Homo sapiens: one gene and its partners. The protein of the gene in region 1 interacts with the protein of each later gene in a biochemical or structural test. Each region holds a gene or a part of one and is shown in the gene's direction. Other genes may lie near its edges.

Region 1 (3,500 bases):
GTTACATTTAGTTTATCCAGCGTGTTATCAAAGGGTGCTATATAGTCTCTTCTGTTCTGAGGTCACTGCCTTAAAAATGTTGATGTATGTTAAGTGCTGGGCCAGGCACAGTGGCTCATGCCTGTAATGCCAGCACTTTGGGAGGCCGATGCAGGCAGATTGCTTGAGCCCAGGAGTTCAAGACCAGCCTGAGCAACATAGCGAAACCCCATCTCTACAAAAAATACAAAAATTAGCCTGGTGTTGTGGTGTGCACCTGTACCCAGCTACTCTGGAGGCTGGGGCAGGAGGATCACTTGAGTCCAGAAAGTTGAGGCTGTGATGAGCCATGATTGTGTCACTACACTTTGGCCTGGGCAACAGAGTGAGAGCCTGTCTCAAAATAAAGTAAAAAATAAAATAGTAAAGGTCTTAATGTATTATGGAAGAGCACCAGAATACATCAGAAAAGCCAAATTCAGGTCTAGGAACTGCCACTTTCTAGTTTCATAACCTTAAGCTAATCACTTTATTAATATGGCTTCAGTGTCCTTCAGTAAAATGGGAATGGTAATACTCTACCTTTGCAGGGTTGTTTAAAATCAAGTGAGGTAATTTATGTGGAAATGTTTTTATATAGTAGCATGTATATTTAGAAATCCTCTATTTTCTGTCAGTTCAATTTTGTGGGGAAGATTCTTGGACCACAAGGGAATACAATCAAAAGACTGCAGGAAGAGACTGGTGCAAAGATCTCTGTATTGGGAAAGGGCTCAATGAGAGACAAAGCCAAGGTAAGCTCACATTAGTGAGGCAAGAGGACATCCTAATGCCTTCTACTTGCCCAGAATGCAGTATGGATGTCTTATAGAGGCGGCAAGAATTTTGTATGTGTACAGAATGTGGCTCCTTTAAGTTTGCACTGGATGCAAGAGATTATACACCAAGTTAATTTACTTGGCTTGGCAACCCTGGAAGAGCCTAGGTGTGCCCTGGTGATAGTTTTCTTTTGGACTTTTTGACTGTGTAGTAATGGAAACAGCAGTAGCATGTTGCGCATTGGTAGGATTGTCTGTGAAAACTTGAAAGGGGAACTGAATATACTAAAATTTAGTCTAAAGCAGACAAAAGACGCTAAAATGCAAATAGCACACCCCCTTTTTTGTAACCTGGAAAAGTGAGAACAATAATGTGAGAGCAGATGAGTTTGAGGATTAGTTGGTTTGTTTTATAGCCGGTTTGGAATGTGAGGCTCACTAAAAGAATGTATTCCAAAAGGAACCATGAGTAATCCTGACTACAGAATCTAATGCGTCTTTTTTTTCCCCATGCCATAGCCGCGTACGCTGTGTACTCTGTGACAAGAAACTTCTCACCAAAACAGAATAGTCTTAGCCTTCTGGGGTCACCTTATTTGATGAGATATTCCTGCTACAGTCCAAAAACCAATTCTTTCAACCCTCCTTTTATGTAGTCTAATGGACACATGTTTGTTTTCTCAGGTCATTTCTTGCTAGATGCATATAGTTACGGCTGAAGTGTGTTCTAACTAATGAGATTTACATGAGCTTTTCTTCCCTCTGTCCTGACTTCTTTCTTCCCCTACCACTCCCTAGACCATATAAGCAGATAAGCAGAGCTCGTGGTGATTAACAGCTCTACCTGTGATTTAAAAACAAATGCTTGGCAAACAGCTATTATCTGAATAGACTAGAATTAAGTTTTTCTTCTTTATGCTTTTAGTAGGAGCTCCAATGGATATCTCAGGGATTTAAGACAACAATTAACTGTAAGCAGCAGACCATGTGCAAGTTTAGCAGGCTGTGCAAATTACTGTTCTTGAGAGTTTGTTTTACTTTTTTTTTTTTTCTTGAGAGGGAGCCTTGCTCTATTGCCCAGGCTGGAGTGCAGTGGCTCACTGCAACCTCCACCTCACGGGTTCAAGCAATTCTCCTGCCTCAGCCTCCTGAGTAGCTGGGATTACAGGCGTGCGCCACCATGCCCGGCTAATTTTTGTATTTTTAGTAGAGACGGGGCTTCATCACATTGGTCAGACTGGTCTCGAACTCCTGACCTTGTGATCCTCCCGCGTCAGTCTCCCAAAGTCCTGGGATTATAGGCGTGAGCCACCGCGCCTGGCTGCTTGTTTTACTTTCTTAAACTTTACTGTTTTTCTTTTTTCTTTTTTCTTTTTTTGTTTAATTCTTCTCAGCTCATACCAATTAACTTTACTGTTTTTCATGGACATTAGGGGTATTTCTTGCTGTTCCTTTGGCTTAGAGGTAAAGGTGGTGTTTTCTCCCTAGTCCATGGTGTGACATTTCTCTGCATTTTTCCATAGGAGGAAGAGCTGCGCAAAGGTGGAGACCCCAAATATGCCCACTTGAATATGGATCTGCATGTCTTCATTGAAGTCTTTGGACCCCCATGTGAGGCTTATGCTCTTATGGCCCATGCCATGGAGGAAGTCAAGAAATTTCTAGTACCGGTAAGGAAATCCATATCCTGTGTCTTCTGAGCAAAAGAGAACTGGGATCTTATACTGTTGTGAAGGTAGGGGTTCTTAACTAAGGTCTCTGCATAACCTGTATGTATACCAAATTCTGCACTTATGTTCATTTTCCTTAGGTAGTTCGTTACTTGCACCTAGTTCTCAAAGCATTATGCTCCAAGGCCACTCTATCCCTCCTTGTCTAATGTGGTTTTCATTGTGTACCGGTATCTTGTCAGTATCTCGGGTCCACAGTGTGCCTGCATTCTGATATTTGGTTAACTAAGGTTTAACAGGGTCTTCACCTAGCTGAGTATTTTGGTAGTAGTGTGGAACAAGGAGATTGTGTTAGGAAAGTGACTAAGGTGGGTCTCTGCACTCAAGAAGTTCATGCTGTAGAGAGTAGAGACTAGCAGCAAGAAGCTTATAGCATCTAGTGTTATTGGGTTAAATTCTGACCTGAGCACACTCAGGGATTTCTTTCCTGGAGGAGTTTGCTGAGGACGAGTTTAGTTTGGAAGAGGTTGACTATTGATGTTTAACAGATAGGTGAGCAGCTTTTTTCAGACTATTACTGAGGACTAGATAGAGATGGGACAGGCCAGTTTATCTATCTTGCTTGTTACCACCTTTGAATACTTGGTTGGAATATTACTTTGAATAAATAGGAAATGGTACTATTTTTGCCTTTTAGCAAGGCCTGGTGGTTGTCAGAGTTAACATACTACTGTTGAATATTTAATAACAAGGATGAATCTGGAGACTTATGAAGGATTTGGAATATTATTAAGTAGAATTGAGTAAGCGTCATGTGTTCATCAGAAAACTAGGAGGAGGTAAGATACAGTCCTTGGTTTTCTTGAATGTTAAATGAGGGAATTAGAACTAAATGTGGTGTCAGATGATGTGAAAATTGATAGGGCAAAAATTTATAGGCAGTGTGGGCCAGGCACGGTGGCTCACGCCTGTAATCCCAGCAATTTGGGAGGCCGAGGAGGGCAGATCACCTGAGGTCGGGAGTTCGAGACCA
Region 2 (3,500 bases), on another chromosome or scaffold:
ATAGTAAGCCACTTTTCCTTAGAGGCTAAGCATTGTAATTTCTTTCTCTGACTAGGAGTAACATTTTCCTTGAATCTTGGCATACACGTATGGTCTCATAACTCTGAAGAAATTTCTGTAGAGAGAAGCTAGCAAGCCACAGAGGTGAGTCAGAGCCAGAAGAAGGAAGCCTTCCCTGTGGCTGGCTTTCTCCTACCTCAGCAGCATGAGGGTCATCAGAGGGGTGTTAGGACAGTTCAGTGCTATGGTCTGTCTTTGAAAAGAAGCCAGTTTTGTCTTGTTAGATACTGGGGTTGTGATCCTGGATGACAGGGATTCTGCGTCAGTTCTGGGCCAGGGGAATGAAGGTTTGACAGGCTGGTCATAGTACAGGGTTATTATGCAAAGGGGAATTGCTTTCTGAGGGCCCAAGATGGTGCGATGAACAGGGTAGCCTGGTGTCTTGGTCCAGCTGACGCTTGTGAATGAACTCTGTAGTGCTTGGGTAGAAGAGAAAGACTGAATATGATGGACTCTCCACCAATTTCTCAAATTGTTCAAATCATGGTGTGATGCCTCCCTTCATAGGCTCCCAAAGGAGGAATCCTTTCTATCTACCAGAGGTTGCCAGGACTAATTCTTTTGATGCCTGCTAAACTCACTGGGCCTTTTTTTTTTTTTTTTTTTTTTGAGATGGAGTCTCACTCTGTTGCCTAGGCTAGAGTGCAGTGGTGCAGTCTCACTGCAACCTTTCCCTCCTGGGTTCATGTGATTCTCCTGCCTCAGCCTCCTGAGTAGCTGAGATTACAGGTGACTGCCACCACACCTGGCTAATTTTTTTATTTTTAGTAGTGATGGGGTTTTACCATGTTAGCCTGGCTGGTCTCGAACTTCTGACCTCAGATGATCTGCCCACCTCTGCCTCCCAAAGTTCTGGGATTACAGGCGTGAGCCTCACTGGACCTTATATGGCTATCTCCATCTAAAATGTAAATACATCACTTAGCCTTACTCTCCTTTTTTAACTTTCATCTGTAAATTGCTCCAGGCTGCTTCTCCTCTGACTCAGCCTCTAACTTCTGTACCCCTCCCAAAACTTAATACTGGATTCTTAAGCCCCATTGTGTGGCTAACACCTCCTCCCACATCCTCAATCTCTTCTCTGAACTCTTCATCTACTTCCTGCCTCCTTAGGTCACTTAGACGTCCTCTGAAGTCTTCAAAATAGAGAAGGCTTTTCCTCCATCACCTTTTACAAACCAGGCTCTGCTCCTTTGAGGCTCCTGTCATTCTTTTTGTTCATTTGATACATATTTGAGGGCCTACTATGAGCCAGGCACTGTTCTAGGAACTTGAATAAATTAGCTGAAAACCCTGCCCTCACTGGATACATTTCAGCAAGTTTGTACTGTATTACACCATAAATGCCATGGAAGGAGGAAAAAGGAGAACTGGCCGCGAGGAAGAGGATTTGGCAGGCCTTGTTGAGTACTTGATATTTGAGCAGACTGGAAGGAGGTGAGGGAGTTAGTGGGTGAGTATCTGAAGAAGACTGTCCGGGGAGGGACTGCCTGAAGCAGAGGCCGGAAGGCACAGGGCTGGTGTGTCGGGGAGCAGCCTAGAGGCCAGTGTGGCCAGGTAGAGTGAGCATTGGAGAGTTAAAGGCTGGGGGCAGAGAAGGGAGGGGTCAGATTATATTGAATGTGGCCGGTCACCCTGAGGACTTTGGCCTTTATTGCTAGGGCCATGGGGTGGGAAGTTAACATGGGCAGGGGACATTTCAGGGTCTTGAGCAGGAGGGGGGCATAGTTTGATTATATATTGAAAAGGATCACATAGGCTGTTCAATTGAGACTACCTTGAGCATTCCCCTGAATTAGTTAGGATTCTTTATTAGTTAAAAAGACATGAGCTGAATGCAAACTAGATAGAGGAAAATAAAAATCTACTGGCTCACGTTGCTGAAAAGGCCCAGGTATTTTGGCTTCAGGGATGGCTGGAGCAAGGTATTCCAGTGATGTCGGGGATCTGTCACTTTCCATCTCTTGGCTCTGCTTTCTTCTGTGTCAGCCTTGTTCTCATGCCAGTGAAGGGATATGTTCTATAAACAAGCTTCCCAGCTCCAGCAGAAGGAGAGCACTCCTTTCCTGATAGTTCTGGCCAAAGCTCTGGGCTGGTGTCTCATTGGTCTAAATTGGGTCAGGCGCCTAAACCAGTCTCTGATTCTGATTGCGCAGACTTGAATCAGGTACTTATCTTTGGAATGAGGAAAGGAATTTTTTTAAAATTGGGGAATATATACATGAAGTTTATAACAATGTGTGTATATAAAGAGTAAAAGTTATCTGTACAGTTTAAAGACTAATAAAATGTTCCTACCCCCAGATTAAGATACAGAATATTACAAATATTTTGGAAGCCCCCTCTGTGCCTGGGAAGGGAGGAGGTGGTTGCCAGAGCAAAATCAAGAAATGTTAGACAAGCAGGAAACAAATATCCACTACAGACCTTCCAATACTGTTTTCTTTGTCATTTTCCAACTTCACACCTTCTCACTCTCATTCATTAAATCTTTAGACCCCAACTTACTGTCTTCTGAAATCATGTCCTCACCACGGGGCTTTAATCATTCACATGGCTGATCTGTCCAACTCTCCAAAATTACCAGTTTCTTGACCTCCTTATCTGTAATCATCCTTTTTTTTTTTTTTTTTTTTTTTTTTTGGGATGGAGTCTTGCCCTGTTGCCCAGGCTGTGGTGCAATGGCACGATCTCAGCTCACTGCGATCTCAGCTCACTGTAACCTCTGCCTCCAGGGTTCAAGCGATTTTCCTGCCTCAGCCTCCTGAGTAGCTGGGACTACAGGTGCCCACCACCACGCCCAGCTAATTTTTGTATTTTTAGTAGAGACGGGGTTTCACCATATTGGCCAGGCTGGTCTCGAACTCCTGACCTCAGGTGATCCGCCTGCCTCGGCCTCTGAAAGTGCTGGGATCACAGGCGTGAGCCACTGCGCTCGGCTCCTTCACCTTTTTAACAGTTCATCTGCTCTCTCCCACGGCCGCACCCTGCGTTGTAATACCTAGAAGCATTCCAGCTCTGAAATAGTGCCACTGGATATTATCACATTTTATTGTGTTTATTTAAGGTATACAACTTGATGTTATGGGATACACATAGATAGTAAAAGTTTACTATAGTGGAGCAAATGAACACAGTCATCATCTCATAGTTAACTCATTTTGTTTTTGTGGCAAGAGCATCTAAATTGACTCATTTAGCATGATTGTCAAGTACAGTACAATTTTATTATTAATAACTCTAGTCCTCATGTTCTACATTAGATCTCCAGACTTGTACACTCCTCCATATCTGCTATTTTGTATCCGTTTACCTACATCTTCCCATTTCCTCTCCCACCTGCCCTTGGTAGCCACTATTTTGTGTTCTTTCTCTATATATTTGAATTTTTTTAAAGATTCCATATGTAAGTGAGATCACTCAGTGTTTTTCTTTCTGTG
Region 3 (3,500 bases), on another chromosome or scaffold:
TGGAGAATGACAGGGGCCCCAAGGCAGATGGCATCAACCTCATCAAAGACCAAAAAACAAATAAACGAACAAAAATCCCTCCGGTAGGCAGTGAAACACCACAAAAAAAGCAAGGGCTATAGATGATATACCAAGAGCTACAGATGGATGAGGTTGGACAAGTCACATAACCTCTGTGTCAGTTTCCTCATCTGTTTGTTGTGAGGAATAAATGAAATAATGCCTGTAAAATGCCTGTCAGGTAGAAGTCACTGAAAGGAACAGAAGTTCCATTCCATCCCCCTAAGGAAAGACAGGGAATGGCCAGAATCTTCCTAGCCAATTGAGTAGTGCTTTCAAGGAGAAATCAAGAGAAAACACTACTTCTTGGATATTTTGGCTAAGTAGTCATTTGAAGTACAGTTGACTGGTTATTTTATTTTAAATCATATCTCATAGACTCTTCCCAATCATAGGCTGGCTGTGTAGTTTTCTGAATTTTGCTCTGGTATTCTTCTTCTTTTTTTTTTTTATTTTTATTTTTTATTTTTTTTTTGAGACTCCAGGCTGGAGTGCAGTGTCACGATCTTGGCTCACTGCAACCTCCGCCTCCCGAGTTCAAGCGATTCTCCTGCCTCAGCCTCCTGAGTTGCTGGGACTACAGGCGCCTGTCACCACGCCCGGCTAATTTTTTGTATTTTAATAGAGACGGGATTTCACCATGTTGGCCAGGCTGGTCTCTAACTCCTGACCTCAAGTGATCCGCCAGCCTCAGCCTCCCAAAGTGCTGGGATTACGGGCATGAGCCACTGCGCCTGGACTTATTATTCTTAATAGTATTTTATCTTATGAGCGAAGATAAGAGCCCAAGATGGTTTAGTTTACTGATTCTGCAAGTGCTATTTCTATTAATTCCTTGGCATACTGCAGTTTGTATGATGGCTGCACTCTTGTTAATAAGCTTCGTCTTTCTGAATTCTGTTGCTCCATAGGGAGCTGGGAGGCTGCAAAAGGTGGCCCTGTAAAAATCTTTGCATTTATAATTTAATAAAGGGGACATTGTAACACTGGAACTCCATATTTTAAATGAAGAGCTCTGTGTCTATTTTTTCTCCTCCCCCATTTCTTTCTTTCTATAAACAACAGTGGTGTGTGTGTGTGTGTGTGTGTGTGTGTGTGTGTGTCTGTATGTTTGAGACATTCAAGTCACTTCCATTTCCACCCTTCACCCTGAGTGGAGCTCAGGGTTAGCCATCATTGTGCATATTTTGTGGTCAAACCGACTCTGTAGGCTACTGAAATTGTTTTAAAAAAATTGGGGCCTTTACTGGCCAGGCACGGTGGCTCATACCTGTAATTCCAGCACTTTGGGAGGCCAAGGTAGGCAGGTCACCTGAGGTCAGGAGTTCAAGACCAGCCTGGCCAACATGGGGAAACCCCACCTCTACTAAAAATACAAAAATTAGCCAGGTGTGGTGGCACACGCCTGTAATCCCGGCTACTTGGGAGGCCGAGGCAGGAGAATTGCTTGAACCCAGGAGATGGAGGTTGCAGTGAGCCAAGATCGTGCCACTGCACTCCAGCCTGGGCAACAAAGCAAGATTCCGTCTCAAAAAAAAAAAAAAAAAATGGGGCCTTTCACAATAAGTACCCACAGAAGCTTTACCCTCTAACTACTTTTTAACTCAGAGCTGTGTGTTACACACCAACCTTCTGGAGGACTCAAAAATGGATCCCTTTCCTTTCACATTATTGAGTGATGGACCAGTGGCACCTAAGGAAGAGCTACCACATTTTCAGGCTGTGTGAGTCTGGACTGGATCATAAGAAACAGGAGAAAAGCAGTCAAAGAAGGTGGTACCAAATCATGGCAATTCTGGTAGACCTCTAGCTCAATGATCTAGAGGTGGAGGCCATTTCACCTTTTGCTCAGAGGGGCGATGGCTAGTGAGAGACTTGCTTACTTCCTCATAGTCAGAGCAGCACTAAACCCTGCCCAAACACAGATACTTGAGAGAGAGGAAGACTTCCTCTTGTACAAACTGGATTTGTTCTAAAACAGAGAAAGAGTAGAGGCAGCTTCCAGAAGGACCTGTCTTATAGGAAGTAAGAGCAGGGGACAAGAATGAAACAGATGGTGGGTCTAAGCAGGGAATGTATCCACCAAGAGCCTGCAACAAAACTAAAGATAAAATGTTGCCTGCGATTTATTCGGCTAAGAGAAGTACACCAGACATGGTTTGTTGGGATGCTTCTGACCCCATTTACTGGTCACAGTACTCAATTTATTTAGGGTTTTATTTTTTATCCTGTAATTTGAGTCTTTGATTGTGAAGAGGTACTTAATTATAATTTGCCACAAGAATAATTGTGGTATGATTACAGGGCTCTCAATGAGTTGGTAGTTCCTGAGAATAGAGTAGTATTATTTGGTTACCACTACTCCTGAGTAAATGCATAATTGTAATGTTAAAATGAACCTCTTTGAGTTTAGAGCTAAAACTGAGTGTTGGGAAGGGCTGATTGTAAACTCATCAATTTGTCACTCCAGTGAGAGACCATTTAAACCAGGGAGTCAGGGTGTGTGGCAGGGTGGAGGGAAAGGTTTGCACTCTTGCCCAATTTTTCTCAAAATCTAATTTACAAAATATTGAATTAATCCACCTCCAGAAGATAGTGGCATACACATGGTAGATAAGTGGCAAAGCGATCTTCCAGAACACCCCTGGTGTTCCTTTGACGTATTTTCGTCTCCCCAGCATGAGAATAGAACCTCCTACACCACAGGAAAGAGCAAAATAACAGTGTGGATAGCCCCCAGGCTTTGATAAAATTCACTCCCTTGCTTTCCTAGTGTGAGCAATAATCTGCTTAAAAAGTAGAAAAAAACTGCTGGCTTTATTCATTCTGCTTCCACGGTGCCACCAAAAGCATAAGGAGTTTACTTAAAAAATAGACACATTCCCACCCCCACCCCCCCACCAGAGGAAAAATCCCTACCACTAATTAAACTTGAATGGAGGGCTGGTGGTTTTTTCGTTACTTACTTAGTGTTTTTTTGTTGTTGTTTTTGATTTTGTTTTTTGAGACGGAGTTTCGCTCTTGTTGCCCCGACTGGAGTATAATGGCACAATCTCGGCTCACTGCAACCTCCGCCTCCTGGGTTCAAGCGATTCTCCTGCCTCAGCCTCCCGAGTAGCTGGGATTACAGGCATCCACCACTACGCCCGGCTATTTTTGTATTTTTAGTAGAGACGGGGTTTTGCCATGTTGGCCAGGTTGGTCTTGAACTGTTGACCTCAGGTGATCCGCCAGCCTCGGCCTCCCAAAGTGCTGGGATTACAGATGTGAGCCACCGCGCCGGCCTAGTGTTCTATTTTTATGACAGCATTTGTTTTCACTTTATCTTTCCAATGAAAGTTCGGAATTAGTAATAATATTACACTGTGCATAAACTGTAAGTGAATAACTGATATGAAGTGTTGCTTGGTGTGAATAAAAAAGCCAGTGGTGACTTTGGG
Region 4 (3,500 bases), on another chromosome or scaffold:
TGTGTCTGGAAAAATTAAAAACATAACATTTGACATATATTTAGACATCAAGATCTAGGTCTAGATCTAGTTTAATAAGTCCTACAAGTTCTCCAAAGTATATTTAAATAGCTTCAGTGATTAAATGAGTTCTCTTTTGACTGCACACTTTTGCTGCCTCTTACCCAGTTTCTTCCATTATATATTTTCCTGCTCAATTGCATGCATAATAAAGTGAATAATTCTCTGTCTTGTTAGTCAACTGTGTCTTGTTTCAGAGTCAAATTTGAAGTTTTCAGTCATGGTCAGTAGTGATGTGCATCATTGTCAGCTGTTCTTTAAATGTGAATATAAAGTATATTGAAAATTCATATAAATTAGCCCCATTTTGAAAACGAAGGAAGCAGAGACTGAGAAAAATGAGTGGCCACGTTTTCATGGCTGATGAGTGAGGTTCCAGCTCATGCCTGGGGGTCTCTGACTCTGGTTTTTGGTGCTCTCCTCTGCTCCACACTTGCTCTCTGATTTGCTTATAACCTTAAGGCAAGTTTCGTGACCTGTTGGAACCTCAGTTTCTTCATCTCGAAAGCAAGGAGGTTGGCTTTAAGAATTCTTTCTGCTCTAAAATATCATTCCAGGCTGAAACCACATTAAAGCAGTCCTAACTTGAACCTGTGCCTCTGAGGCATCTCTGTCTCTCTGTAGTGCTGTGAACGATTTAACACCCTGTGTATTTGTATTTAACTAAACTGTATAAATGAGTCACTTAAACTTAAAACAATTATAAAAAATGTTTTTAAGTATTAACACTTTTTCAGCAATTAATCCATTTTATATGACAGCTGTATTCTAGTCATGGAACATAAATCTTATACTAGAAAAAGAGATCTGAAATTAAATATACTTGAGCACTATAAGAATTCACCTTGGGCCAGGTGCAGTGCCTCATGTCTGTAATCCTAGCACTTTGGGAGGCCGAGGCAGGCAGATCACGAGGTCAGGAATTCGAGACCAGCCTGGCCAACATGGTGAAACCTCAATCTGTACCAAAAATATAAAAAAGTAGCTGGGCGTGGTGGCACGCCTGTAATCCTAGCTACTTGGAAGGCTCAGGCAGGAGAATCGCTTGAACCCGGGAGACGGAGGTTGCAGTGAGCCGAGATGGCACCACTGCACTCCAGCTTGGGCGACACAGAGACTCTGTCTCCAAAAAAAAAATAAAAGGCATCTTGATGATGCTGAAATAATTAATACATTGCTGTCCTCAAATTTTTCTGTGGTCCATAACAGTGCCCAAAAATTGAAATGCTTACAAGCTGGTCAAGGAGTTGTCATGATATATAATCCCCACAGAAGCGCACCTGTAGTCCCAGCTACTTGGGAGACTGAGGCAGGATAATCGCTTGAACCAGGAGGTGGAGGTTACAGTGAGCCGAGATCGCGCCACTGTACTCCAGCCTGGCGACAGAGTGAGACTCTGTCTCAAAAAAATAAATAAAATAGAGTAATTAATAAATAAAAGTGTTGCAGGTTAGCCTAATTCATTAAGCATTCAGTATGCTCCCAAAACTCCTCCAGGTCCTGAAAACACAAATGCTTCCTCTAAGTCCCTCTGGCTGCTGTAATAGGTAAATGGATAGCGGCAGTCAGGTGTGATGAATAGAATCACAAAATATGCTCAAAATGCCTAGGAAGACTCTACCTGCGGCTGCAGGGAGTACTTCCAAAGAGAGGATGACTTAGTTGCCAATGACTGAAATGTACTGAGTACATACTAGGTTCTTTACATAAATCTTTAATTCCCTTATCACCTTAGAAGGTAGGTCATTCTGGTCTCATTCTTCCACAAGGAGATTTCAGCCCCTAAGGCTACCTAAGTGTTGGAGTCAGAATTCAAACCCCATGCCATCCAGCTGCAGGACACATCTGGTCTCTTGTGTAAGCTGCGTTTTAAAGGAATGTCTAGAGAAAGGAGACTCAAGGGAAGTCAGCTGAGAATGCAGGAAAAGAAGACACGGGCCCCTGAGAGCATCACACTGGCCTTTGGCTTGGCACATGAATGAAAGTAGAAGCAATGCGACTGGAACTTCGTAGAAATAAGATTCCTTTTCCCATTGTAGATATTTTGCTTCCTTTTCTTCTGTTTACTAAAAGAAAAATTCTAAAACCCAAATTAATCTTGTCTTTTTCAGTAGCCCTTTGGATGGCTATGTTCTAGCTGTCCTCTAATTTCAGAAATGTCCTTTGGATATAGATGTGATTTCTGGAAGTAGTCAAGTTTATTTAAGTTTTTGAGTCTTAAGTGACCTCCCCCCCACCCCCTCCCCATAGCCAAATTTATTGATTACACTTTGGGTCTCTACTAAAGAGACTTGTTTTCCGCTGTCATGAACTGCTTCTGAAGGCAATTCCAAAAGAAACAAGCACATATGCTGATGAGCAGGACAGCCCCTTTGGGACAGTTGTGGCCTCTGGAGAGAGCCTGTTGAAAGGCAACTTTAATTTGGATGTAGAAATGCCAGCATGTGGCTATTGCCCCCTGTGGCCAACTCAGATTGGCGTGCTCACTACTCACTGCCCCAGGGAACTAGGGGGGCGTTTTTTCAGGTCTGCCCTTCACTCTGGGGTGACCGAATGTTTCAGACACAGTCAAGCAAATAGAGTGCCCGTAAACATCACACCTTCTGGAGTCAAACTGTTCTGTTTACCAGATCAAGCTTAATTAAATGCCTAATTGGCCATTGAACAATCTGATTACATTAGGTTTCATTTACCACAGTTTCCAGTTCTAGTGCACCCGAAAGACAGGACAAGGTTAAAACTGGTAAGTAAATGTAGACGAGAGTTGTAAAATTCTTACAAGGAAAGTCTTAAGACTGATGAACATTTATATTCATGATTAGATTTCCTGGATTTGCGAAACCTGGCACGGAACAGTATTTGTTGGCCAAACAACTAGCAAAACCCAAAGAGAAAATTCCCATCATTGTAAGTTTGTTTATTTTTGTTTGCTTTCTTTCTGATTAAGCTCTTTCTTATACCGTACTTTAAAGCTAAGCGAGTTATTCATCTTTTGGAAAGTATTTTTAAATATATTTAATGCCCCACATAACTGATAATATATGTTAGTGTTGTAGGAGTACTGAAGATAATTAACACAAATTAATGCCTGTCATTATATTGTTTATTCTTTATCTTTCAGACTTTTAGTATTGAACAAATATACTATTTTGATCATTTTTTTCTAAAGTGTCTTGAAGTGTATTTTACATAGTTTTTCTGCCAGCCCTATATGTTTAACTGATGAACTCAATTCAAATATTTATGTTTCTTCCCTTGTAAAGTACATGTATGTTATCAGAATAAGGTACCCTTTCAGATATATGGGTAATAGTGTTTTTGGTAATAGTGTTTTTTCCAGTAAACCAGCTGTCAAATTGAGATAAGGAGCTACCAAATGGAAGCTGGGAGTTAAAGACATCATTGAGAATATCTGTCTTAGAATTACTTGGTTATTGCAT
Region 5 (3,500 bases), on another chromosome or scaffold:
TACTGTTGTTTTCTAGAGCATGAATTCCTTGAGGGTGGGAATATTTTCTTCATCTTTTTATTGCCAGTATTTAGCTTGATGCCCATTTCCAGTGAGTGTGATATAGCACTTGTTCAATAGACGTTAATTGAGCCAATGAGTGAAAAGCCTTAGGGCTGTGCTATGTATGGTTATGATAGAGCTCTACTCTTTGTGTCACTCAAATATTAAATACTGTCATACAATGAACACTTGTGATTTCTATTTACATTTTAGAATTGTATTTTAAGCATTCTCATGTATACACTATAGTTTCTTCCACTTATGTTTCAGGAGGGCCAAACATGTGGGCTATTACCTCTGAAGAACGTACTAAGCATGACAGGCAGTTTGATAACCTCAAACCTTCAGGAGGTTACATAACAGGTTTGTATTTATAATTAGTTTTATTAGTGAATTATGGTCCTTATGTGATATCTAAGAATTAGTTTTAATTTGACTGCCATCAAATTTGTGTTAATAAACGATAAAATTCATATCAATCAGAATTCTAGAAATTAAAGAAATGCTAACTTTATTTTTCCTGGAACTGTCTTAATTTGTTGTTTTAAATTTGGGATATGGAAGATTTTTCCTGAATCCTAAATGATAGTCAAGAATTTCTGTGTAATTGTCTGGTTTCACATTTTAACATTATATCTAGAAAGTTTTCAGTTTATTTCTTAGATTCATTTCATGGAAAATCTAGACTTTTTTTTTCTGGAATCTGTTTTCCTAATGCTAGCCCTCTGTCTTTGAGGCTACACCAAGCACTGATTGTTGATGCTAGCCCTTGTTTTGCAGAAAGACCACCAGAGCCAAAATGGGATTAATTTAGGTGTGCCTTTGAAATTTTTTTCTATTAATTAAACTTTTTTCTGTGCCAAAGTAGCTTAGTGCTTTACATACAATAATAGTAACTATGAGAACAATGATATTTATTGAATTTTTACTATATACCAGATGCTATGCTAAGTGCATTATTTTATTTAACCTTTACAACAACCCTGTAAAGTAGGCACTGTTGTTGTCTATATTTACAAATAGTGAAACTGAGACTAAGAGACGTTATGTAACTGCCTAAGGTTACAAAGATGGTTAGTGTTAATCTGGGCTTTGAAACCATTTGGGCTGATTTTGGAATCCATCTACTTAACCATGTTATTTGTACTGCTATGATAGTAATTACCTTACCTGGTATCAGGATTTGATTACCCTGCTTACAGGTTAATAACTTTGTCCATTACGGGTGGAAGACCCAAGATTCCTGAGTCAGAGACAAAGAACCTTATGACTAACAGCATAACTAGCAAAATGAGCATTGGCATCTATCTTTCTGTTTCCTTTAGTGTTCCCTAAGTCCCACAGAGACAATGCAGAGAGCCCAGGAGAATAGTACACATGCTATGATTGTGTTACAGGAGAGGAACACTGAATTTGGGGAACCCACCCTTTTGTAGCAAGCAGTAAAGCAAGTTTGTCCCTTGTCTCAGTGGGAAACGTTACCGGATTCGTTAAGATTGCTCATTACAAACCCAATTCTGAGAAGTGACCCAGGCAGAGAGCAATTAGGGTCTTACATTATTGGTATACAGAGCAAGACACATAGGAGTGTGAAGAAACTCATGGAGGACTCTCTCTCCTAACACCTGGTACTTTTTATATTGAAACTCTTTTAGGGAATAGTGTTTTTAAATATAAATTTTACTAAGTGGAAGTATTTTTAAGGAAGACCCCAATTGTGGAAAAACTGAGATGAATCATCTTTCATCACTGATTAATATACAATAGAAGTGCAGATGTGACTTTTGTTTTAAAATATCTGTCTTATTAAAGTTATGTAAATAATTTTTATGTGTTTCTATTTCACTTATTCTTTAATGATTGGTATTAAAATTATAATAAATCATTAACATATACCCATTATTATTCAGAAGCATTGGAATAATTTCATTTACTAATGTGCTGCTTGGGTTTTGTTTTTATTACCTCCAGGTGATCAAGCACGTAATTTTTTCCTACAATCAGGTCTGCCGGCCCCTGTTTTAGCTGAAATATGGTAAAGTGTTTTGTAGATGAACCTAATTTTCTGATAGTATTTTGTTTTTTTGTAATATAGTGTTAACATAAAATTGTTTTTAGTTGCATTCTATTGGTTATTAAGAATATTTCTGCCAGCACTTTGGGAGTCTGAGGTAGGAGGATTGCTTGAGGCCAGGCTGGGCAACATAGTGAGAACCCTGTCTCTACAGAAAATTAAAAAAAAAATTAGCTGGGTGTGGTGGCCACACCTCTAGTCCCAGCTACTCAGGGAGGCCAAGATGGAAGGATTGCTTGAGCCCAGGAATTCAGTGCTGCAGTGAACTATGATTGTGTCACTGCACCCTAGCCTGGATGACAGAATGAGACTCTCTTTAGAAAAAAAAAAAAAAAAAAGGTATTTCTTCAGTTTTTTGGAAAATAAATTTTATTGAGCAAATTATTGAAAATAATTCAGGTTTAGTTCTCTAGGACAAATTTCTAATTTCATTAGAATTTTCTAAGGAAAGATATATACATTATCATTGAGAAAAATTTCCTTATAATTTGGCAGAATCTCAAAATCCTCTTTCTGTTATTTTGTAGTTTCATTTATTTCATAATCTATAAACCCCAAATTAGTCCTCGCTTCCCCTGCTCCTTCTTTAAAGAAACTATTCTCTATAATATCTGTTTTTTTAAAAACGTTTACAATAAGTAACAACCCCTGTCCCATCTTTCCACTTGGAATATTCTCATGCCTGGTAGAGTACGAGGCACATAGCAAGTATTCAGTAAATATTTGGACAGATGAATAAATTAAATTTAGAAGTATTATAATCTTGAATTTTTTTCTACCTAAACTGGTGGAATTCAGCCCAAAGGTCTCTAGATTCTGTTTTGACAGGCAGTGTTTTATTAGTTATTATCTCTGGTCAGTATTTCTTAAAGTGTAGGTTTTATCTTTTTGTTATTATATATTTTACATGTTAGATATTTTAAATTTAGTGATGATGTACACGTGAATGCCATATCATCATTTTTACTTTGTCAATCCCCAAAATAACGTTAGTTTTCCCACCACCACACCACATAGCAATCTACCTACCTCATGCTCCTTTTAGGGCTTTATCAGACCTAAACAAGGATGGGAAGATGGATCAGCAAGAGTTCTCCATAGCTATGAAACTCATCAAACTGAAGCTTCAAGGCCAACAGTTGCCTGTGGTTCTCCCTCCTATTATGAAGCAACCCCCTATGTTTTCTCCATTAATTTCTGCTCGTTTTGGTAAGTATGTATTAATTTAAATACCTGTATTTGCTACTTAAACTTTATCCCTAGGCATATTTGAGTATTAGAAAAGGATTTGTTAGCACAAAATGACAGTCCCCAGATTCCAAGTTAATTTTCATGTTAGAGATAATAAATATTAAATTCACTGTCACAGGTAGGGGATCCATGT
Region 6 (3,500 bases), on another chromosome or scaffold:
TTGTCAGCTACCTTTTTCTGAACTCCTGAATCCACTAAGATTTGGGGTAAGTAGAACCAACTAGTGACACTGAATTTAGGTGGAGCACAAGGAAGAAAAATTTAAAAGGACTTCTGGGTAATTGGGAAAGTGATGCTGCTCTTACCAGAAAACTTATTTAAAAATATTTTAGCTCAAATAAGAGGACTGGAAATGCAAGTTAAGATTCTCTCCTTCCCCTATCGCCCATAAAAGAAAATCATACCGTAGGAATCATACTTATATTCAAGTATCCGATGATGCATTTTTGTTTCTGTTTTGCTGCCAAGGAAATTTCTCAGGATACCATGTATCTCCAGTATTGTAAAGTCTGCCAAGCATACAAGGCACCACGTTCACATCACTGCAGAAAGTGTAACAGGTACCTGTCTTTCTTGCTGTTCAGCGAGGACTGATCAACTAATTACTGATGTTTTCATTGTTGCTTATACTACATTAGTGCTACTTCTATTCACTGCAAGGTTACCATATTATAAACAATATTGTCAGAATACTTGTGTCCATAATCGCCATTTTATACTTAAATTATCTAGATAATAAATAGATTTAATTCTTCCTTGTTACAAGTGAAAAGATTTTCCAGAAAAATACAGATTTACTTTGCCTCTTGTCCTACAAGAACAAGGGAAAAAGGTATAAACCTTAAGTTTGTTTCCATATATCAAGATTAATTGTGTTAGTCAGCTGCCATCTGGACTAACTTTAGAATTGTTCTGAGTCTAAATTATAAGGGAGATCTGCTTTTCCCATTACTTATTGACAAACATTTACACTTTATACACATCTAATAATCCAGGTGCCTATTATCACAAATGTTTTAATATCAAAAACTTAGAAGAAAACTGACTATTAAAAATATGAAATAACCTGTGACCTTTTTTAATGAACAGCTATAATCACTGATTAGTAAGAAATTTAGAGAACCGTTGAAAGCAAATAAAGTTTTGTTTCAGGCCAAAACATTGTCTTCTATCAACAGTACACGGCAAGACTTTGTTTATTATACCATATCTTATATTCTGGAGTTAGCTTGCTTAGCTCAGAGATCCATTAACTAAAGGATACTATGAGAACAGGAAGGAAGTTACATGTGTCTATTTGAGCCCATTAACCCCACTGGAGGTCTATAAGGGATTTGTTGAGTCTCTATTGTAGGTCACTTGGGTCACTGCACTTACAAACTAGAAGAAAACCAGGAACCATGCTCATTTCTTTATAATGAGCATTATAAAGAGACCCTCTTTCAGTGGGTCTCCTGACTTCTTTAAACAAATACTTGTAGCTGACATCTTTTCCTCAGAAGCTGTTAGAAAGCCTGCCCTTTCCTGTGCTGTTTAGAATTTAAAAGGAGTCACTTAATTGTTTAAAAGCTCATAAAGATTTTTCTTTCTGTTCCATGAAGTATAATTCTCTCGTAGCTCATGGACATGCTGGATTCCTATTTGCTTGATCTTTTGAAGACCAAAGTTATTTAAAGTAGACAGGATTTTCTGCCTCATGTTTTATGTAAATTTTTCTTGTTAGATGTGTGATGAAGATGGACCATCACTGTCCTTGGATCAACAACTGTTGTGGTTACCAAAATCATGCTTCGTTCACACTGTTTCTCCTTTTAGCACCACTGGGTTGTATCCATGCTGCTTTCATTTTTGTGATGACTATGTACACACAGCTTTATCATCGGGTAAGTGAAAATGAAAATGTTTTGTTATAAAATCATCCATGCAAGATTAAATGGTAGTTATCAACATTTAAGAGGTTCCTTTTGGAAATATGCTTTCTGTGATTTAGTTGGGGAAATAGAACTTTGTTTTACTGGTATATGGGTTCCTTTTTAGAAAGCATTAAAACTTAAATTTTAAGATGAGGAAAGAGTATTTGTTCTGAAAACTTACATGCTGTAGTTGAAGGTGATAAATATTTTAGTACTGTATATGTAATTTGTTAGACTTCAAACTTAATAGTTATGGAAAGAATAGAAGAAAAAAAGACAACACTAGTGCTTCCTACTTTCATCCCATTCATGTGGCAAGTTGTAGTTCTTTGTTCATTTCTGATTCTAGTGCCCTGGAAGGTGGCTCATGGAGCAGATGCATACCATAAAATATAAACAGATTAAACCAGCAAGAGATCAAGTTGATTTATGGGCAAGTAGTCATGAGATAAAGTTCAAGGGACACAAACCTCCCTAAACAGGCCTTGAAAGTAAACGAGAGACACACCTGATGGGACTGCCAAACTGGAGAGTCTGTCCTTTGGGGAGGGGACAGCCCATATTTGATCTGCTAGCTTGTGGTGTTTGGAAATTCTAGCCCAGAAAAATCTGAAAATCTGGATTTTTATGTGAAATCTCTTGATTTTTAAATGTTGGCACCTAATTCTGAATGTTGAAACATTATGCAGGCCAGGCAGCACACATCTGTGGCCATATTTGGCCTGCATTTTATCAGTTCTTCATCACCATTTGTAAAACATGAGGGAAGAAACAACTGAATCCTAGGCAGCACTTGTCACTGTGGAAGAATACTGCGATGTAGAATAGCAAGAGAAGAGAAAAGACATAGTTCTGGTTTAGATTAGTGTCTAGTGTTGTTTATGTATGTTAATGTTGGTAAGGTCTCCTTGACACTTTCTGAGGAAACAACAACAACAAAAAGTAACATTTGAGAAAACTAAGAATGATATCCTGCACATCGGTCCGAGCTCATTACTATATTAATTAAAAATAGCTGGCCCAGCTCAGTGGCTCACGCCTGTAATCCTAGCACTTTGGGAGGCTGAGGCGGTGTGGGTCACAAGGTCAGGAGTTCAAGACCAGCCTGGCCAATCTGGTGACACCTGTCTCTACTAAAAATATAAAAAATAAGCCGGGTGTGATGGCACATGCCTGTAGTCCCAGCTACTCGGGAGGCTGAGGCAGGAGAATTGCTTGAACCTGGGAGGTGGAGGTTGCAGTGAGTCGAGATCGTGCCACTGCACTCCAGCCTGGGCGACAGAGTGAGACTCCGTCTCAAATAAATAAATAATAAATAAATAAAATAAAATAAAAATAGCTGTGTTTGCGTTGGCCACAGGGCCACGTTGTTATCTCTTTGATCAAGTTGTTTTACGTGTCACAGTAGAGTCTGACCAGTTACCATAACCAAACATTTTGTGCGTGTGCTATTGTTGCTGCGATAGCTCTCCTTTGGGTGGAACACAGTGAAGATCGACATGAGTGCAGCCCGGAGAGATCCTCTTCCAATTGTTCCATTTGGATTAGCTGCATTTGCTACCACCTTGTTTGCCTTGGGATTAGCTTTAGGAACAACCATAGCTGTTGGGATGTTGTTTTTTATCCAGGTAAGCATCTCAATTACCTCAAGTCAAAAGTGTCAAGTTGTTGGGACTGATTGCACAAGAAAGAGACAAAGCCTGTATTTAAGTGTCCAGTATGAAATGGAAATTATTTTTGCTTATTT
Region 7 (2,500 bases), on another chromosome or scaffold:
GTGGCGGCAGAGGGTCAGGAAGTGGAGGGTTGATGGGCGTGTGGGGGGCAGGGCTCAGCCTCCTGGTGCTGAGCCAGAGAGGGACCAGCAAGCGGGTGAGGGAGGCTGTCTCAGGTCCTAAGGCTGGCTCTGCCCCCCCAAGATGGTGCTCCCCACCATGACACTCTCCTCACCCCCCTTGTCTCCTCAGCTGCAGCAGAAGGCCGTGGCTAGTGAGATCTTCAAGGGCAAGAAGGATAATTACCCTCAGAGTGTACCCAGGCTCTTCATCAGCACTCGGCTTGGTGAGCCCCTGACTTTCCAGCACTCAGACCTTTCGTCACCATCCTGGTCCCCCATTGCCTCCACTGACTTCCCTCCCCGCCATCTGAGTTGCAGGTACAGATGAGATCAGCCCCCGAGTGCTGCAGGCCTTGGGCTCTGAGCCCATTCAGGTAAGAGCCTGCCTGCAGCCCTGAGTCCAGCAGCACGGTGCTACTGCCTGAGAGCTGAAGGCAGGTCAGGGCAGGGGCGGAGCCTTGGGAGCCTCTCCCCAGCCCCTTCAGCCTGGCCTCTGTCCCCAGTATGCGGTGCCTGTTGTGAAATACGACCGCAAGGGCTACAAGCCTCGCTCCCGGCAGCTGCTGCTCACGCCCAACGCCGTCGTCATCGTGGAGGACGCCAAAGTCAAGCAGAGGATTGATTACGCCAACCTGACCGGTCAGCCAGGGTCCAGGGCTGCAGGGGGAGGGCCCTGCTCTGACCCTCGACCTCTGACCTTTGCCCTCTCCCCTCAGGAATCTCTGTCAGCAGCCTGAGCGACAGTCTTTTTGTGCTTCATGTACAGCGTGCGGACAATAAGCAAAAGGTGCCTTTTCATGGATGGGGAGGAGTGGTGGGGGATGGGGGAGGTAGATGGGGAGGTGGGGTGGATGGGGGAATAGGGGGTGTGGGGGTGGATGGGGAGGTGGGAGGGTGGATGGGGGTAGATTGGGGGGTCAGGAGGTGGATGGGGAGGTGGGAGGGTGGATGGGGGTGGATTTGGGGGTCAGGAGGTGGATGGGGAGGTGGGGCGGGGGTTCCTCAAGTTCTGGGCAGGGCCTGACCCCTCCTCCTGCCTGGCCCCCCAGGGAGATGTGGTGCTGCAGAGTGACCACGTGATTGAGACGCTGACCAAGACAGCCCTCAGTGCCAACCGCGTGAACAGCATCAACATCAACCAGGGCAGGTGAGGCGCGGGCGGCCCCCGGGGACAGGGCGGGGGTGGCGAGGGGGCTGTGTGGGCACCCAGGGACAGGGTGGGGGTCCACCTTAGGGTTGGGGGTCTGCCTCCATGGAAAAACCCTCACCCACCCCGTTCCCCCAGCATCACGTTTGCAGGGGGCCCCGGCAGGGATGGCACCATTGACTTCACACCCGGCTCGGAGCTGCTCATCACCAAGGCCAAGAACGGGCACCTGGCTGTGGTGAGTGGGGCCTGCTTTCCCGCTTATGGCCTGGCTGTGATAGCCAAGCCTTCCTTGGCTGTGCTTGGCAGAGCCCAGGCACCTCACCATGGGCCTTCATCCAGAGGCCATCATACCACCTCTTCCATCCCTTGGCCCACCCATGAGGGCCAGAGAGAGCCCCTCAGTGCAGAAAGTTGTAAAGGTGGCAGCACGGTGGCTCATGCCTATAATCCCAGCACTTTGGGAGGCTGAGGCGGGTGGATCACCAGAGGCCAGGAGTTTGAAACCAGCCTGGCCAACATGGCAAAACCCATCTACTAAAAAAATGCAAAAGGCTGGGTGCAGTGGCTCACACCTTTAATCCCAGCACTTTGGGAGGCCGAGGTGTGTGGATCACCCGAGATCAGGAGTTCGAGACCAGCCTGGCCAACATCGTGAAACCCCATCTCTACTAATAACACAAAAATTAGCCGGGCGTGGTGGTGCACGCCTGTAATACCAGCTACTAGTGGGGGCTGAGGCGGGAGAATTGCTTGAACCCAGGAGGTGGAGATTGCAGTGAGCTGATATCATGCCACTGCACTCCAGGCCTGGGGAACAGAGTGAGATGTCATCTCAAAAAAAAAAAAAAAGGCCAGGCACAGTGGCTCACGCCTGTAATCCCAGCACTTTGGGAGGCGAAGGCAAGTGGATCACCTGAGGTTGGGAGTTCGAAACCAGCCTGACCAACTGGAGAAACCCCATCTCTACTAAAATACAAAATTAGCCGAGTGTGGTGGCGCATGCCTGTAATCCCAGCTACTTGGGAGGCTGAGGCAGGAGAATCGCTTAAACCCGGGAGGTGGAGGTTGCGGTGAGCCGAGATTGCGCCATTACACTCTACCCTGGGCAACAAGAGCAAAATTCCATCTCAGAATTTGTATACAAAAAAGTTAGCCTGGTGTGGTGGCGTATGCCTGTAGTCCCAGTTGCTCAGAAGCCTGAGATGAGAGGATTGCTTGAGCCCAGGAGGTTGAGGCTGCAATGAGACCCAAGATCTCACCACTGCACTCCAGCCTGGGTGACAAAATGAG

What was found.
Region 2: the proteins of KHDRBS1 (region 1) and SNX30 interact in a test that uses a peptide from one of them, tested with the Homo sapiens proteins (one study listed by BioGRID).
Region 3: the proteins of KHDRBS1 (region 1) and BTK interact in a test that uses a peptide from one of them, tested with the Homo sapiens proteins (one study listed by BioGRID).
Region 4: the proteins of KHDRBS1 (region 1) and SNX9 interact in a test that uses a peptide from one of them, tested with the Homo sapiens proteins (one study listed by BioGRID).
Region 5: the proteins of KHDRBS1 (region 1) and ITSN2 interact in a test that uses a peptide from one of them, tested with the Homo sapiens proteins (one study listed by BioGRID).
Region 6: the proteins of KHDRBS1 (region 1) and ZDHHC6 interact in a test that uses a peptide from one of them, tested with the Homo sapiens proteins (one study listed by BioGRID).
Region 7: the proteins of KHDRBS1 (region 1) and MYO1C interact in a test that uses a peptide from one of them, tested with the Homo sapiens proteins (one study listed by BioGRID).

The regions. Positions count from the first base shown.
Region 1 is NC_000001.11:32,030,868-32,034,367, forward strand, and holds part of KHDRBS1 (KH domain-containing, RNA-binding, signal transduction-associated protein 1), read left to right. Parts: intron 1-656; coding exon 657-773; intron 774-2,320; coding exon 2,321-2,467; intron 2,468-3,500. UniProt on the Homo sapiens protein: Recruited and tyrosine phosphorylated by several receptor systems, for example the T-cell, leptin and insulin receptors. Once phosphorylated, functions as an adapter protein in signal transduction cascades by binding to SH2 and SH3 domain-containing proteins.
Region 2 is NC_000009.12:112,753,760-112,757,259, forward strand, and holds part of SNX30 (sorting nexin-30), read left to right. Parts: intron 1-3,500. UniProt on the Homo sapiens protein: Involved in the regulation of endocytosis and in several stages of intracellular trafficking. Together with SNX4, involved in autophagosome assembly.
Region 3 is NC_000023.11:101,376,192-101,379,691, reverse strand, and holds part of BTK (tyrosine-protein kinase BTK), read left to right. Parts: intron 1-1,668; exon of another isoform or gene 1,669-1,833; intron 1,834-3,500. UniProt on the Homo sapiens protein: Non-receptor tyrosine kinase indispensable for B lymphocyte development, differentiation and signaling. Binding of antigen to the B-cell antigen receptor (BCR) triggers signaling that ultimately leads to B-cell activation.
Region 4 is NC_000006.12:157,903,246-157,906,745, forward strand, and holds part of SNX9 (sorting nexin-9), read left to right. Parts: intron 1-2,882; coding exon 2,883-2,967; intron 2,968-3,500. UniProt on the Homo sapiens protein: Involved in endocytosis and intracellular vesicle trafficking, both during interphase and at the end of mitosis. Required for efficient progress through mitosis and cytokinesis. Required for normal formation of the cleavage furrow at the end of mitosis.
Region 5 is NC_000002.12:24,312,037-24,315,536, reverse strand, and holds part of ITSN2 (intersectin-2), read left to right. Parts: intron 1-312; coding exon 313-405; intron 406-2,013; coding exon 2,014-2,077; intron 2,078-3,161; coding exon 3,162-3,325; intron 3,326-3,500.
Region 6 is NC_000010.11:112,440,415-112,443,914, reverse strand, and holds part of ZDHHC6 (palmitoyltransferase ZDHHC6), read left to right. Parts: intron 1-308; coding exon 309-400; intron 401-1,563; coding exon 1,564-1,723; intron 1,724-3,219; coding exon 3,220-3,381; intron 3,382-3,500. UniProt on the Homo sapiens protein: Endoplasmic reticulum palmitoyl acyltransferase that mediates palmitoylation of proteins such as AMFR, CALX, ITPR1 and TFRC.
Region 7 is NC_000017.11:1,466,187-1,468,686, reverse strand, and holds part of MYO1C (unconventional myosin-Ic), read left to right. Parts: intron 1-190; coding exon 191-284; intron 285-378; coding exon 379-434; intron 435-563; coding exon 564-699; intron 700-776; coding exon 777-847; intron 848-1,109; coding exon 1,110-1,207; intron 1,208-1,345; coding exon 1,346-1,445; intron 1,446-2,500.